Linked DNA regions of Homo sapiens: region 1 is linked to region 2. Evidence: fine-mapped expression QTL. A gene starts in region 2. The other region holds a variant in brackets. All regions are shown on one strand. Distances are between the middles of the regions.

The links. PIP is the estimated chance that this variant, and not a neighbour inherited with it, causes the effect. A credible set is the group of variants that fine-mapping cannot tell apart.
Region 1: its variant is the best candidate, but not a certain one, in a credible set for the expression of LRRC75A in whole blood (TOPMed, PIP 0.72).

What each region holds. Positions count from the first base shown.
Region 1 is chr17:16,508,400-16,516,726 of GRCh38, forward strand. No RefSeq gene overlaps it. Among named protein-coding and RNA genes, the nearest start is that of LRRC75A, 20 kb to the left of the region's middle. RefSeq lists an enhancer at 7,885-8,327. The variant T/C (reference allele first, on the strand shown) is at 4,531.
Region 2 is chr17:16,488,777-16,497,103 of GRCh38, forward strand. LRRC75A (leucine rich repeat containing 75A) reads right to left here and starts at 3,417. Exons shown (of 4, transcript NM_001113567.3): 1 at 2,969-3,417. The coding sequence starts at 3,214. The region is part of intron 2 of LOC124903936 (a long non-coding RNA gene); the gene reads left to right. RefSeq lists silencers at 3,020-3,079, 3,190-3,239, 3,330-3,669.

The DNA.
Region 1 (8,327 bases), 20 kb after region 2:
CCTGTAGGCCATGGGAATGGCCTATAGGACAGATTCTGAGCAGGAGGGTGACAGGATCGCCTTGAAGTTAGAACCATCACTCGGCAATGCAAGATTACTTATCCGATTTATTCATTCTTGCTTCCAGACTATGTAGAAACTGGCAAAAAGCCTAAAAGTCTAGTGTTTTCAGGCCTGTTTGGAGAGAATGATGGACATGGGTTTGTGAAATATCAAATGCTTGTTCTGACCCAAATTGCTCATAATCAGAAAGAGTACCTTTTCTTTTTTTTCTTTTTTTTGAGATAGGGTCTTACTCTGTTGCCCAGGCTGGAGTGCAGTGGCATGATCATAGCTCACTGCAGCCTTGAACTCCTGGATTCAAGGGATCCTCCCAACTCAGCCTACTGAGCATCTGGAACTACAGTGTATGCCAACACACTTGGCTAATTTTGTATTTTTTAGTAGAGAGAGAGTCTCGCTATTTTGCCCAGGCTGGTCTTGAACTCCTGGCCCCAAAGGATCCTCCCACCTTGGCCTCCCAATGTGTTAGGATTATAGGCCTGAGCCACTGCACTCAGCCAGAGGAGTATGAATACTTAGATATTTGCACACAAATCTCAGTCTGACATAAGTCTGCAACTCCAGCAGCAAAAAAAAGTCTCTATTCTCTTTTCTCAGCAGTGTTTCAAATTGAGCCTTATTGATTATGACCTTGTAGTTTATCTCTCGCAAGTAGCTTTCTAATAAAAAATACTTATGTAACTGTCTTTACTTAATGTTCAAGAGTCTAGCATATTCTCCGTGAATCAGGAGACTAATATTTTATGCTGGCAGTGACACAGAAACCCACAGTTCATTGTCTGAGACTACAGCTTGTCCCAAAGATCCCCATGGAACACGAAGTAATCCCCATCAGCTACAGCCAGAAAATCAGTTTCCTATGAAGTTAGAACAATACGGCTGGGTTTCCAGGAGGTAAAGCATCCTGAAGCTTTGCTGGATGGTATTATTTCTGGTTTTCGCCAGGCTGCAAAGAATTTTCACTTGTTATAATAGGGCAGTCCATTTCCTGCAAAGAAATATCTTTCCTAGGGGTCTGTCTACTCTATAGCTCACAATGTTCAGAAATAACAAGAACTTTACAAGTGTTTACAAACATCGTCTTGTGTTAGGCAAGTATCAAAAAATCTTGTCTCTCACAGACGTTTCAGAGAATCCACACAAATAACTCAGAAAGTCTGTTCATTGCAGAAAAGCTAGTATGAGTTTGCCTTTTTTTTTTTTTTTTTTGAGACAAGTTCTTGCTCTGTCACCCATGCTGGAGTGCAGTGGCGCAATCATGGCTCACTGCAGCCTCAAATTCCTGGGCTCAAGTGATTCCCCTTCTTCAGCCTCCTGAGTAGCTGAGACTATAGGGACATGCCACCATACCCAGCTAATTTTTTTTTTTTTGAGACAGAGTCTCACTCTGTCACCCAGGCTGGAGTGCAGTGGTGCGATCTCAGCTCACTACAACCTCCGCCTCCTGGGTTCAAGCAATTCTCCTGCCTCAGCCTCCGGAGCAGCTGGGACTACAGGCACGTGCCATCATGCCCAGCTAATTTTTGTATTTTTAGTGAAATGGGGTTTCATCATGTTGGCCAGGCTGGTCTCGAACTCCTGACCTGAGGTGGTCCACTCGCCTCGGCCTCCCAAAGTGCTGGCATTACAGGTGTGAGCCACCACACCCGGCGAATACCCAGCTAATTTAAAAAAATTTTTGTACAGACAGGGTCTCACCACGTTGCCCAGGCTGGTCTCGAACTCCTGCACTCAAGCCATCCTCCTGTCTTGGCTTCCCTAAGTGTTGGGATTACAGGTACAAGCCACTGCACCTGGCCTGTTCTGACTTTTGTGCGGCGTGAAGTGAAGAAACTTAACAGGGCATTTCCTTTCGTGCTGTTCTGGCTGTGATGAGCATTTGCAGAATCCCTGGGCATTATTCTCATGGCATTACTCTCTCACTAAAGAGTCTGAGGGCTCGAAGTCATTATCACTCAGTTCTCTCTGAAACTTCAAGTCAGCATCTCAGCTATTCTGTCAATGTTGTGAGCAAAAACTAGTAGCCACACTTTCCAAGTGACAGAGAGGAAGTGTGAGCATGCCACTTCATTACATTTCCTCTCCGGTTGACAGAAGATTCTGACCATTCCTCTTGTTGTCTAGAACAATGGCGGGTGATTTTGTGTCCAAAGGTCATGTGGCAATGTTTAGAGACATTTTCCATTGTCATGACTGGGGTTGAGGGAGCTACTGGCATCAGGTGGGTAGAGGCCAGGGATGTTGCTAAACATCCTACAATGCCCGGACGGCCTCCTCTCCGCGAAAAGAATTTTCCAGTCTAAAATACCAATGGTGTCAAGATTAAGAAATCCTGGTCTAGAACTAGAATCCAAATGCCCCAGTGCCAGCCATTTAGTTCTCTCAGAAAGCAGACTTTTCTGCCCACCCCAATCATGTTCCCCTTTTGTAGTGATGGAAGTTATAACAAGATGCAAGACCAGATTACATTTTCCAGCCTTCTTTGCAGTTTAGTGTGGCCATTTCAGTAGCTCCCACCAATGGAACAAGACCTAAAGTGATGTGTGCCACTCTGGCCAAGGCTTCTGAGAATTCCCTTTTCCCTTCTGCTGGCAAGATGTAGATGACAACTAGGCTGTATGGGAGAGCCATGATGGGAGCCTGGATCCCTGCATCGCCCTATGGCAGAGAGCTGCCCATCGGCTGAAAACACATGCTGCAGTCGCTTATGTGAGTGAGAAATAAACTCCTGTGTTTGAGCCAATTTACATCTTTAGGTCTACTTGTCACAGCAGCTTAGCTCACCCTAGCCAGTAAACAGCCAATCCCCAAGAGCCTATTTTGATGCTAGGAGCCTTAGGAAGCAGAGAGAGCTCTGAATGAGGCAAACATGGCAGGGATCTTTGCCCCTGAGGTTAGCTTGGGTCCCCTCTGCTAAATGGTAGGAGCAGCGCAAGTTCAAGCCTGCCATCAAGGGGCCCTTGCTTTGTTTAGTACAGCCTTGACTTCAGGAGTAGGTTGTGATATGATCCCCACTCTGTGTGATTTCAGCTACGTCATCACGATTAGACACTTAGGCTACTCCGATGGTCCATTTTATCTGTCAGCTCAACTGGGCCACTAGATGCCCAGATATCTGGTCAAACATTATTCTGCTGTGTCTGTGAAGGTGTTTCTGGACGAGGTCAGAATTTGAATCTGTAGACTGAGTGAGGCTGATTGTTCTCTCTAATGTGGGTGAGCTGCATCCCATCAGTTGAAGGCCTGGGTAGAACACAAAGGCTGAGTAATAGGAAACCCCTTCCTGCCTGACTGTGGGGACCAGGACATTGGTCTTTTTCTGTCTTTGGTCTCAAACAGAAACATCTGCTCTTCTTGGGTCTTGAGCCTGTGGCTTTCAGACTGGAATGTATACTCCTGGGTCTTCAACTTGCTGACTGCAGATCTTGGGAAGTTTCAGCCTCCATAATTGCACAGGCCAATTCCTTACAATAAATCTCTCTCTGTCTCTGTCTCTCTCTTTCTCTACACACACACACACACACACACACACACACACACACACACACACACGCATCCTGTTGGTTCTTTTCCTCTGGAGAACCCTAATACAGTTGCAAATTGCAGAAACTCACCTGAAAGCAGTTTAGGCAGAAAAGGGAAGAGGCTCAGAGAACCAAAGCACAGGAAGTGATGGGGTGCAGCTGGCCGCAGGGACAGCTGGACCAGCAGGGCGCATTTTCTCCACCTCTTATCCCCACTGCTCTGGGTGTGTTGGCTTCATTCTCTCTTTGTGCAGTTAAGCCTCTTCACACAGCAGGGAAAAAGCATCATGATCTCTAAGCTCATATCCTCACAGCTGCTGGGCCAAAGAGGAAGCGTCCTCCCTGTCTCTCACTTGAAAATTCTGGGAGGGACTTGGGTTGAGCATCCCTGCTGTGCCTGGAGCAGGCTGTATTATCAGGAGAAATAAGGAATGGGCATAAAAAATGGCTGTACATTGTTTCTTGCATGTACTCTGTGACATTGGGATATGGTCACTGTCCCCTTCCACTTCTGCTGGCTCATCTTTGCCTCCCATCCCTGCTACTTTGACCCAGGGAATCAAAGTGTAGCCTCAGGGAGCAAATTACAGAATTTTTTTCCAACAACCCCTCCCCCACCACTCCTACATTGGCAGTGGTGGCTGTCCAAAACGTGACAGGAGAAAATTCTAACTGTGCAAAATGTGATAGATCCTACAACATGATGATACATGAGATCTGTCATGTAACTCAAGCTGGAAAAATTTCAGCAAGATAAACTGACTGCCATACATCTTAACTAGTCCCTGTCCAGTTTCTATTGGCTAATGCTAGTTTGTTTCTTTTATTTTTTTGAGATGGAGTCTTGCTGTGTCACCCAGGCTGGAGTGCAGTGGCGCAATCTCAGCTCACTGCAACTCCCGCCTCATGGATTCAAGGGGTCCTTCTCTCTCAGCCTCCCAAG[T/C]AGCTGGGATTACAGATGCGTGCCACCATGTCCAGCTAATTTTTGTATATTCTTAGTAGAGACGGGATTTCACTATGTTGGCCAGGCTGGTCTTGAACTCCTGACCTCAGGTGATCCACCCGCCTCAGCCTCCCAAAGTGTTGGGATTACAGGCGTGAGCCACCGTGCCTGGCCCATCCTAGTTTCTTTCTTTCTTTTTTTTTTTTTTGAGATGGAGTTTCACTCTTGTTGCCCAGGCTGGAGTGCAATGGCATGATCTTGGCTCATAGCAACCTCCGCCTCCCGGGTTCAAGCCATTCTCCTGCCTCAGCTTCCCAAGTAGCTGGGATTATAGGCATGCGCCACCACGCCTGGCTAATTTTGTATTTTTAGTAGAGAAGGGGTTTCTCCATGTTGGTCAGGCTGGTCTCAAACTCTGGACCTCAGGTGATCCACACACCTCGGCCTCCCAAAGTGCTGGGATTACAGGCGTGAGCCACTGCGCCCGGCCATTTATTTCATTCATCATACTTATCATACTCTGTGATTCCTTGCTTGATTTGTTTACTTGTTTACTGTCCACCTTTCCTACCAGAATTAAGCTCCCTGAGGGCCAGGTTCCATCTGTCTTGGTTCTTGCAGTGCCTCCGTACCTGGCACAGTGGTTGGCATGCCCCTGCTTGTGATGTGTGTAACAGAATATGCCTTTTGCCAATGCTCAGGGTGTTGCTGGGGTTTTGCTGAGGTTTTCCACTTTTCTCTGCACATGGTGACTTAAAGGTCTGCAGGCACTTCTTTGAATCTACTCTTATTTCCGCCATGCCTCGCAGAAGTTCCTTGAGGTCTCTGAGGCCTGAGCGGCCGTTTTCTTCTATGTCTAGTGTAATCACCCTCTACTTTCATACTCTTTTAGTCATTTCAGTGACAACTTGGAAGATGGGGATTCCCGGTACGAGATTGGAAAGGCATAAAATGATACGGCAGTGATCGCTCTTTGGAGATGGTGCTCATAGTCTCACCTTCCAGGGGTTTTTCCTTCATTCTACAAATATTTATTTATTGGCAGGGGCTCGGTTCACTCTCTTGAGCCACTCTCTTGGGCAAGTTCCAAGTCCTCATGTTGACCTGTCTGCCGCATTTGCCATTGCGACTGCTCTTTCCTGTCTGGGGCTTTCTCCACCCTCTTGTTTCTCAATGCAGTAGGGGTCAAGACCCTGCTCCTTCCTAGTTTGCCTTCTTCCTCTTTGACATCACCTCTCCATCTTCCTCAGAGAATCCCCCCTTCCTTCAGTATACCACATGGCACACTGGTCCACTGATTTGCCCTTGTCCAGCTTCTCTTCCCAGGCAGTCTCCTCCGAGGCCTTTGGTTCAGTTCCCTTCTGCAGGAGCTGGTTCTCAATTGCGCGTGTGGAGTCAGAGCACAATCACATCTCAAACTCAACACGTGCAGGGTGGAGGTCGCTTCCTCCCCACACCCTTGCTCCTCTCGCTTCTCTTTCCCTCAGCATTTCCCTGCTCCTCATCCAACTTGCAGCCAACTCTTGTGGATTCTACATTCCCAGCATCTCTCTGGGACCCTACCTCTCCATCCTGGCTACCCTTGCCTTAGTCCCAGCCAGAATCATGTTTTTGTTTTGTTTTGTTTTGTTTTCCCAAGACAAAGTCTTTTTCTGTCACCCAGGCTGGAGTGCAGTGGCTCGATCTTGGCTCGCTGCAACTTCCGCCTCTTGGGTTCAAGTGGTTCTCCTGCCCCAGCCTCCCGAGTAGCTGGGATTACAGGCGCGTGCCACCACGCCTGGCTAATTTTTGTATTTTTAGTAGAGACAGGGTTTCACCATGTTGGCCAGGCTGGTCTCGAACTCCTGACCTCGTGATCCACCCACCTCAGCCTCCCAAAGTGTTGGGATTACAGGCGTGAGCCACGGTGTCTGACCCATGTTTTATGTCTGTTAGTGTGACCCCTATCTTCTTGCCTCCAGTTCTTCTCTCCTTTTAGCTCCTCCATGCCTCCTTTAAATGATCTTCCTATAATACAGCATTGTACTATATCTGCAATACAGCATTGTATCCGACTTCCTCCTTTCATTTATTTATTTATTTTTTTTTGAGATGGAGTCCTGCTTTTGTTGCCCAGGCTGGAGTGCAATGGCACAATCTTGGCTGACTGCAACCTCTGCCTCCCGGGTTCAAGTGATTCTCCTCCCTCAGCCTCCCGAATGGCTGGAATTACAGGTGCCTGCCACCACGCCGGGCTAATTTTTGTATTTTTAGTAGAGACAGGGTTTCGCCATGTTGACCAGGCTGGTCTTGAACTCCTGACCTCGTGATCTGCCTGCCTTGGCCTCCCAAAGTGCTAGGATTACAGGCGCAAGCCACCGCGCCCAGCCTGACTTCATCCTCAATACCTCAATACCTTGAATGCTGAATTAAGTCCCAAATCCTTGTCACCAGAGGCCCTTCATGGCCGGGCCCCTGCCCATCTCTCCAGCCTCCCCTCCATCCCTTGCACCCTACACTCCAAGTCTGCAGAACTGTTTGGAGGTGCCCAGAGTGTACTACCCTACCCTACCACACTGTGCTGCTTCCTTTTCACAAACACCTCTGTATTCGTTTGCTAGAGCTGTCATAACAAAATACCACAGCCCGGGTGGTTTAAACAACAGAAAGTTGTTTCTTCCCAATTCCAGAGGCTAGAAGTTCAAGATCAAGGTGTTGGCAGGGTTGGTTCCTTCAGAGGCCTCTCTCCTTGCTTGTGGATGGCATCTTCTCCCTGCCTCTTCGCGTGGTCATCCCTTTGTGGGTGTCTCTGTGGGTGTCTGTGCCCTAATCGCCTCATAAGGACACCAATCCTACTGGACTGGGGTCCACCCTAATGACCTCATTTTGACTTAATTACTTCTTTAGAGACCTATCTCCAAATAAGGTCCTATTCTGAGGTTGTGGGTATTAGACTTCATGAATAATTTTGGGGGGACCATAATTCAGCCCATAACGCTTCTCCCTCTGGCTAAAAATGAATGTCATTCTCACATGCAAAATACATTCACCCCATCCCAACAGTTTCCAAATCTTAACTCTTTGCAGCACCAACTTTTAAGTTCAAAATCTCATCTAAATCTCATCTAAACCCAGTATGGGTGAGGCTCCCAGTATACTTCTTCCTGAGGCAAAGTTTCTCTCCAGCTGTGAAACTGAAACCGGACAACAAGCTATGTACCTCCAAGACCTAGGGGTGGGGCCAGCATAGAAAGAAATTGGAAAGGAGAAAGGGGTCACGTGTTAGGGTACTTCCATGTATGCATTTTTGAGGTTAACTCAATGGAGAGTAGCCTCCCTTAGTGAACCTGGAAGATGCCACACGCCATTTAACGTCCACTTATCAGGGTGCCCATTTGGAAGCCTCTTCCTCCTGTGCTTCTCCGTACGCCACCCAGTATATCTCTCCATCTCAGTGCCATAACACTCACCACATCCATCTGATGGCTGACTCTCTTCCCTGCCAGACTACACACCTCACGACTTCCAGTACATGCTCTATGAGTGACTATTACGCACATAAACCCCATGAGAGGGGCTTTGTTGTTTTGTACATGCTGTGTCCTCAGAGTCTAAAACAAGTCTGGTAGATGGCAGGTAATCAACAAATATTTGTTGAATCCGTGAGTGAATACAAATAAACACACACACCAAACGTGTATCATGTGCACATTCTGGATTCTGATTTTCCAGGAGTCTGTGAATCTATGCAGTTTCTTCAAGGAGAGTCCAAGGGGACATCAACACACTCCTCCTTCCCCTCAGTGGCCGGATACCAG
Region 2 (8,327 bases):
TGCTGAATGAGGCCTCCTGATACCTCTCCAGCAAGTGACAAGCTGGAGAGACGCCCTCCAAATCTTAGATGCTGAAGAGGGGCATTCAGAAGAAGTGGCACCAGCAGCCACAATCCTTCAGCCCACCGTGAACTGCCACACATGCACCCGGGTCAGGTCCCTGTTTCCAGATCCCCAGCCTGGAGCAAGTCACAGCAGGGAGAAGGGTGGTATTGGACTGGAGCAGAGATTCTGAGCTTGGAGTCTGTAGCTGGGTTTCAGGGGCTTTGTGAACCCTCCGAAATTGCCTGTGAGATTGCGTGAGTCAGTGCATTTGCCTGGGAAGATTGTGTGTAGCTTTTTCAGAGCCTCAAAAAGATCAAGGACTCAAAGAGGCTAAGAAGCACAGGAACAAAGGCTCCCGAGTCCCCACCAGCCATATGGCTCTGGGCATACACAAATCCAGCAGCCAAACCCAAGTTATCAAATGCAGGAGAACATGCTGTGTGAATGGAGGTGAGGGCTACTGTCCTCGCTGCTGCCCCTCCCTGGTTCTGTGCCTGCTCATTGACTCCCACCCCAGAGGCCTGCATGACATTCCTGCAGAACAGGGTGCCCCACGCTTTGCAGACCCCTGTCTTTACTGGCTGTCTTGCTGAGGAAGAGGTTCTTGCTGGTCTGACCCCTGTGAGGCTTGTGTGTTCTCAAGGCTCTCACTAGCTGCTCATTCCCTTTCTGAACATCACCACCACCAGACTAGAGAAGGAAACTGGAATGGAAAGGAAAATGCAATTTTGGAGAAAGAGCCACTTCAGTGCACAGCACAAATCCAGCTGGACATTCCTCCAAATGGCCTCAGGGTCCTAGAAAGCCACCTCTCTGTCATAGGCAAGTGAACACTCCTGTGCTCCACTCCCACACTGCTCAAGGCCCATGACCACTTTCGGGAGGGGTCCTGCTCCATCCGTTCCAGGCCACACAGGGCAGCTCCAGGCCCACGGCCCTTGCATCCCCAGCCAGGGGTTAAGGGAGCCCAACAGGAGCCCAGAAGCCCAGAGCCTGAGGACCTGCTGCTTTCACAGAAAAGGGGGAAGTCTGATAAGCCCCCTCCCACCCCCCCATCAGCCCTCCCAGTCCTGCAGCTGAGGCGGGTACCAGGACACCAATAAGACCCATGTGCAGATGTCTGAGGAAATGCTTCTTGTTTCAAGGATCCCACAGTGGGGCTGCAGGGGCTTATCTACTCTCCCTCAAGGCAGGGAGAAGCTCAGTGTCCCCAGGATGTGGAATCACACTCAGCCCTACAGGGACTGGGGAGCCCAAAGTATCTGCCCACTTTGGGTCCAGTCTCCTCCCGTGGGCCTCCAAGCGGCCCTCCATCATGCAAGCTTCGCTCTGGTCTTGCACCCTCCAAGAAGTGCTTGCCAGCTCCCTCTGTTCTTCTGTATCCCCCAAAGCACCCATTGCAGGGTGGGGGAAACAGCATGTGATCAGGAAAACCTTACTGTATGGTGTGTAAATAGGATACCATGGTCTGGAAAACCCAATATTCTGTTTAAAAGTGAAAGAGTTACTATAAAGGCCATATGTCAGCTTCCAATTTTCAAAAGACAAAGAAATACACACTGCTAAAGTTCAGTGGTGCATAATGTCATCTTTCTTTGATGACTGAACTCAGAGAAGGCACATGGGGATCCAGCAGCGTCTCGGGCATCATTCTGGAAGTTGTTGGGGAAAACAGAGGCAGAAGCAGAAGTCCCACATCTTCCCAAGTCCCCTCGTCTCTGCTTGCCTCTCCCTGTGCAGTGCACAGCTTGGGGACACATACTTTAGGGTAAGAGCGCACCAGATACAAAGGTGGGGAAGAGTGCTGCAGAACCCAAGAGGGATGTGGGTCTGATTAGATTTTGGAAGCTCCTCCCAAGAAGGTGCTCCTACAGCCTCTTTCAGCAGCGACTGGAAAACCCCAGAAAGGTCACCTGAGATTTTCCCTCTGCCATCCACGGTAGACTCCACCTCTAATGGGGTCAGTCTAGCAAGAATATGGGGCCTGGATTGTCTACCCACCAAAGCCAGGCCAAGACAACCTGCTTGGTGATGCAGGAGAGCAGCTTTGCACTCCCCTGCCTGTCTTATACTCAACAAAATCCATGGCATGGGCCATGCTCCTCTCCCCACCAAAGAAACTGACAAAGGAAAACAAGCCACAGAGAGGTGAGTGATAGCATTAGCCTCAGGGCAGCCCCAAAGCAGAGGGAACTGGCCAATTCCGCAACATCTGTCCCTAGCCAGTGGGACAGGCACAGGCTAAGGACAGAGTCCTGGCAGTCTCCTGAAGTTGCTGCTGGCCAGGTGGTCACACAGGGCACCAAATCCAGCTCCCCTGTCTCTACCGCTTTCCGCAGGGGCTCATGGTTGAGGATCTGCTGAAGTTAGTCAGGGGAGAGGAAACAGTCTCCTCCTTGAACTACAATCCAGGATGCCTCCCAGGCGAGTGAAGGACCTAGGGACTGGAATCTCATTGGCCCCAGGGCTGTGCCCCTGGACTCGCTCTCGGGAAGCCAAGCCAGGTCCAACTGATAACCGCATTCCTTGAGGACCCTCGGCCGGGAGTGACTGCCAGTGGGCAGACAGGAAGAAAAGAGCCCTGGCCCAGATCAGGCAGGCATCCCTGCTTCCCCGCCCACCGACTGTCCCCGGAGACCAGCCTCCTTCTCTGCCTGCGGAGGAGAGCAGTGGGGACATTATGCCAACAGGTCCCCTTCGGCGGGCCTCACCCGGCCAGCCTTCCTCCGCCCTGCCCTGAGGCCCCACATTCAGCGGAAGCGCCGAGGCACCTGCTGCCAGACAGGGCTCCATCCCCGCGGAAGGGGCCCCTGGGCGGTGCCCCTCGGTGCCCCCGGCTTCCTCGGTTAGGGATGGGGCGCCCCCCCCGGCCCAGCACGCCCCCTGGCCCGGCGCGCCCCCCGCGCCCCCTCCCCGCGCTCACCTGGCGCAGGTGCTGCAGCAGCGTCCCCGCCTCCTCCCGCCGGCCCTGGCGCACCATCCGCAGCAGCTCCTGGACCATGCCGACTCGCCGGTGGTAGGGGGGCATCCCCGCGCCCGCGCGCCCCGCCTTGTCCCCGGCGCGCAGCAGCAGCGACGCCCAGAAGTCCGGCCGTTCGCGTCGGGGGCCCGGCGCGGCGCCGGGGCTGGCTCTCTCCGCCAGGCTGCCCTTGGTCTGCCGGGTGCCCATGCCGCCGCCGCCCGCCGGGACTCTCCGCTCTGGGCCGCGAGGCCGCGTCCCCGCCAACCGCCCGCCCCTCGGCCGCCCGTGCGCGCTCGCCTCCCGGGCTGCAACTTTGGGGGAACTGTTGCGCGCGGGCGTCGCGGGGGCGGGCGGGCGGGCGGCTGTCGGCGCTCCCCGCGCTCCTCCCTCTTGGCTACCCGGGCGCGCTCCCCGGGCGCTCGCCGCCGGCCCGCCCGCCGGCCCCGCCCCGGCCCGGCTCGGCCCGCCCCGCCCCCCGCCTCCGCGCCGGAGCTCCGCGGCGTCGCGCGCCTCCCTCTTCTCGGGCTCCCGCTCCTTCCCGCCCCGCGGCTCCGGGCTGGGGACCACCACCAGGCGCCCCCTGCCTGCGTCCTCTCGGCAGTCGCGCCTCCTGCGGGCGGCAGTGCTGCGCTTCCCGGGGCCGTGGCGCGGGGGCGAGGGGAACAGGCAGGCCCCATGGGCCGTCGCTCTCGGTCCCCACCGGGCTCCCCGACGCTTCCACCACCGCGCGCCCGGTGCGTCGGGCGAGATGGGGAAAGTTTGGAGCATGGGGGTGTGTGTGTTGGGGGGCTCTCTTAGGCCCAGAGTCGGGTTTCTCAAGGTGGGTTCCGCTGAGCCTCAGCGCCCAAATCGTCGGAGGCGCTGGTTAAAAACGCAGGCTCTAAGGCCTCCACCGAGACCTACTGAATGATAATCTCCTCGGTGGGGCCTGGGATCCGCCTTTTTAGCCAGCATGTTGGGTGATTCCCATGCACGCTCCTTTGAGACCTGGCCTGCTTGCAGGGCGCTGTAGTGGTGTGGTTGGTGCGTAAACCTGGAAACTGTGCGAGCTTATGGGTTGTGTGCGTGCCCTTCTATGGAGAGGGCCTGTTGCTTCCATCATGCTCTCAAAGCATCTGGACCGGAGAGGTGTGAACTCCTGTGTTCTCTTGTTCTCACTCTCACAGCCCTGGAGAAGGGTCCCTGGGGTAGTCCTGGTACAACAAAGCAAACGCACGTCTGCGAGTAGGCCCAGCGGTACACCCTGCTGGCCCACCTTCCTCCCCGTGCCTCTGCCAGGCCCAGTCTGTAAGGGACCAGAGCCCTGGGATCTCATGGTGTTGCCAGGGCTTGCCAGAGTGAAGGCGAAGGCAGGTGGGGGAGCTTCTCTGTTGCAGACCACAGGCCGCCCTGGTCCCAGCGCAGGGCAGAAGCAATTGTGCAAGCTCGCCTCTGACCCCAGCTCTGGGTGTTGCTTGAGGGTGTAAGGGCACGTGGGCTGTAGGGGCAGGAGGCTGGATCCCAAATCACAGGGAGCTGAGCCCCACTACTTAGTGAGCACTGAGTATCAGGCGAGTCTTCAGCTTCTTGAGTCCTGATTCTTCCTGTCAGGCTAGGATAATAACACTGCCAAGAATTGGGAGAGTAAACTCGGTGGACACTGCTAAAGGAAAAAATTATTTAATGACATGAGTTAAAGCATCGTAAGGAAGACTTTATTCAGGACCATTACCATAGGTGTAGGGACCTCTGCTATGAGATTTTGCAGTTGCAGGGAGAGAGAGATTGAGCTCAACTCCAATTACAGCATGGGCAAGTGGGAATTCGTTGCTAAGGAGCAGGGTGGGGGTCAGCGGATAGAAACTTAATAAGGGAAACATCAGGGCTGAGGGGGATTCTGGCTAAACAGGTTGTATGGAGCACCCTTGACATAAGTAACTCCATCTTAGAAAAAGGGTCCATTTTACATTTGAAAAAGCCTCATGCCAACAGGAACCAGATGTTCGCCTAATCAATAAAGACTACACCCCACCAGATAAAGACATAAACAGGCACACTCTTTGCTATCAGTCCTCACCAGAGGATTCTGTAGCCATAAAAAGAGCAGGACTTCAGCAACTGGAGATGACCGTCTGGATAGACCCCATCTTGCCCACACTCTGCCCACATCAAAGACTCTTCCTTGCAAGACACTGAGGACTGTTTGGATCAGGCCAGGAGACTCCCCTTGTCCAAGTCACTCTCCTTGGACTATATTGTTAACCGCTCCTTCCCTATCCCCTTTTCTCTTGATGTTAAATGTACTTTGATGTGGAATGTGTAATCTATAACATTTATATATTGATTAAGTATACTACCATGTATGGTTGGCAGTATTGACTGACTTGTGGAGTGACTTGAGCCTGTATGCCCACAGCTCTTATTACCAAGTGAATGGGGAAAACTAAGGAGAATTTGCCTCCTTGAGAACCCCATGTGGCTTGTGGCTTTTATGACTGAAATAGCATCAATAAAAGCCTGACGTTGTAGAAAGACACACATGTGCATGAACCTGATTATTTCTGACTTTGTGGCACTCACAACACCAACCTAACAGAATTCTTGCTTTAGACAGGCCAGGTGACCAGAGATCACCTGGGGGAGGGTGGGGGATGATAAACCTAATCAGATATTGAAGATGATCAGATATACAAGATGGAGGGTTCTTGCTAAACTGTCTTAACAGGGTCTTTGCTAAAACTGGATTTTACATGGAAGTGCAAAGAGGGTCTAGGAGAAGGTTTGGGAGCCTGACTAAAGTTTGGCCAAGCAAAGAATCTTTGTCAATATATAAACTTCAAGCAGAGTAGAGATGTTCTGCAAATGAGTTCCTCTTCCTGCTCTGTGATCACAGGGTTTTCCATAGGTGTCTTCTCCGTTATCCCTGAGTACCTTGAGTATGAGTCCTGGCATCTCTCCTGCAGGCATTCTCTTCCCTTTGGCCACCCCACTCCCAAATGTCCATCTCTGCCAGCAGAGAACACTCAGTCTTCCTACAAGCTGGCTTTGCAGGGCTTGGACAGCACTTTCCAAACTTACCTGAACCCTTTGCATAGGAGCACACACCTGCTGGCATCTCCAGAGAACCCAGCTTGAAAAATACTTATGTGTCTCTCATCTCTGGTCTGCAGGACCACCAGACAAAGTGGCCACCAAGGACACCTATTGACCAGGCCCCTCCCTACAGACAGTGAGCTCTACCCACCTGGAGACAGACCACACAACCTAGATAGCCTGTTGGCCTGCTTGAGGGTGTGTGGTTGGGGCAAATGCCATTTCAATGGGAGAGGGGCCAGACCAGCCCCTCACTTGGGATCTGAATGTTAGCCCTCTCCTCTTTTTCAGAGACCTGATTCTATCCTCCTCCCCTTGCTCTTGATTTTTTTACCCTGACTTTTCCTGTTTTCTGGCTTGTTCTCCTCAAGATATGCTCTACTCACCTCTCTTCCATCTATTGAAAAATTTCATTTGCATCTGCCTGCTTCAGTCACCAGTGCCCCAACTTTATCCTTTCTTTTCAGCTAAGATTTTTAGTTTCCCTCCCTCCCTCCCTCCCTTCCCTCCCTCCTTCCTTCCTTCCTCCCTTCTTTCCTTTTCTCTCTCTGTCTTCCTCCCTCCCTTCTTTTTTTTTGAGACAGGGTCTCACCCTGTAGCCCAGGCTGAAGTGCAGTGGCACCATCACGGTTCACTGCAAACTTGATCTCCTGGGCTCAAGCTAGCTTCCCACTTCAGCCTCCCAAGTAGCCAGGATCACAGGTGCACGCCACCATGCCTAGCTAATTTTTGTAATTTTTTTTTGTAGAGACGGTTTTACCATGTTGCCCAGGCTGGTCTTGAACTCCTGGCCTCAAGCAATCCTCAGGCCTTGGCCCCCCAAAGTGCTGGAATTACAGGTATCAGTCACCACGCCCAGCCTATTGTCATTCTTTCTTTACCTCCATTCGTTCCTCACCCACTTCAGCTTGGCTTCTGGCCACACCATGTCACTAAAATGCCTCTTGCCTTTAGCCTTTAGCAACAGCTAAAGAAGTGACCTAGTTGCTACACTCAGTGGCCACATTCAGTCTTCATCTTACTTGACTTTTAAGCAGCATCTGATCCTGTTGCCTACTCTTTTGATTGAAACTCTACTCCCTTGGCTTGCAAGGAACTACTCTCCTCTAGGTTTCTTTCTTGAGTTCTCCTGGGAGCTCCTTTTCTTACCCTCATTCTTTACTTGTTGCCTTTATGCAGGGTACTACCCCGTATCTCTTCCTAGGCAATGCTATTTATTTATTCATTTATTTGAGACAGAGTCTCAAATAAACTTATTTGAGACAGGGTCACCCAGGCTGGAGTGCAGTGGTGCAATCATAGCTCACTGCAGCCTTGAACTCCTGGGCTCAAGGACACTCCTGTTTCAGCCACCCGCGTTTCTGGCACTACAGGCACATTACCAACATGCTCTGCTGGGCAATATTATTTGTAATCATGGCTTTACTTGCCATGTACACGCTGATGACTCTTTCCAACTTATAAGCTAATAAATTAACCTGTCATTGATTCATGGATGCTAAAAGAAGACATGACACTCTGTGGTCAGAAACATAGGACTTTGTTACTCAGAGCACAGCAAGAAGCATGTGCATCAGCATATTTGCCTCCAAGTCTCACAGGGGCAATATGGGGGGCCCAGATGGATGTTCCACAGGCAGCTGGTTAGCGTCATAGCTGAGGAACACCGAGCCTGGAGCTGCTTATGCAGGGAGGAGTAAGCAAGCCTGCTCTTCCTCCTCCAGGGAGATGGTACCTCATCCCTCAAGGCGGCTCGCTGTAAACACAGCACTGAGAAGTGGCCCAGGTTAAAAATGGTCAGGGTCTTGCAATCTTGGCATACACAGCAAGATGTGTGAGAGTGCAAGGGACCCACGGAGGATCATCTCTTCCAATAGTGAGCACTTCATGCTCGACAAATGAGCGCATCCTCTTCCAGGCCTCCCTCCCAATCTACCCACTCCTGTCTCCGCTTTTAGTAACAGCAGGCCAGAAACCCGGGAGTCATTGTGCACTCTTTGTTTAACCTGCATCTTGTTAACCAAGGATAGTTAATGATGCCAAGGATGGGAGCTCTCATTTGCTGCGCATTTCCTGTGTGCTCGGTCTTGGGGTGTGTTCTTTGCATATATTAGGCAATTCATCCTTTCCACAGCTGCGAGGTAGGCTTTGTTATTGTCCTGATTTCCCAGGTGAGGAAATGGAAGCTTAGAGAGGTTAAATGACTTGGCCAAGGTCACACAGGTAGTAAAGGGCAGTGTTGAGATTC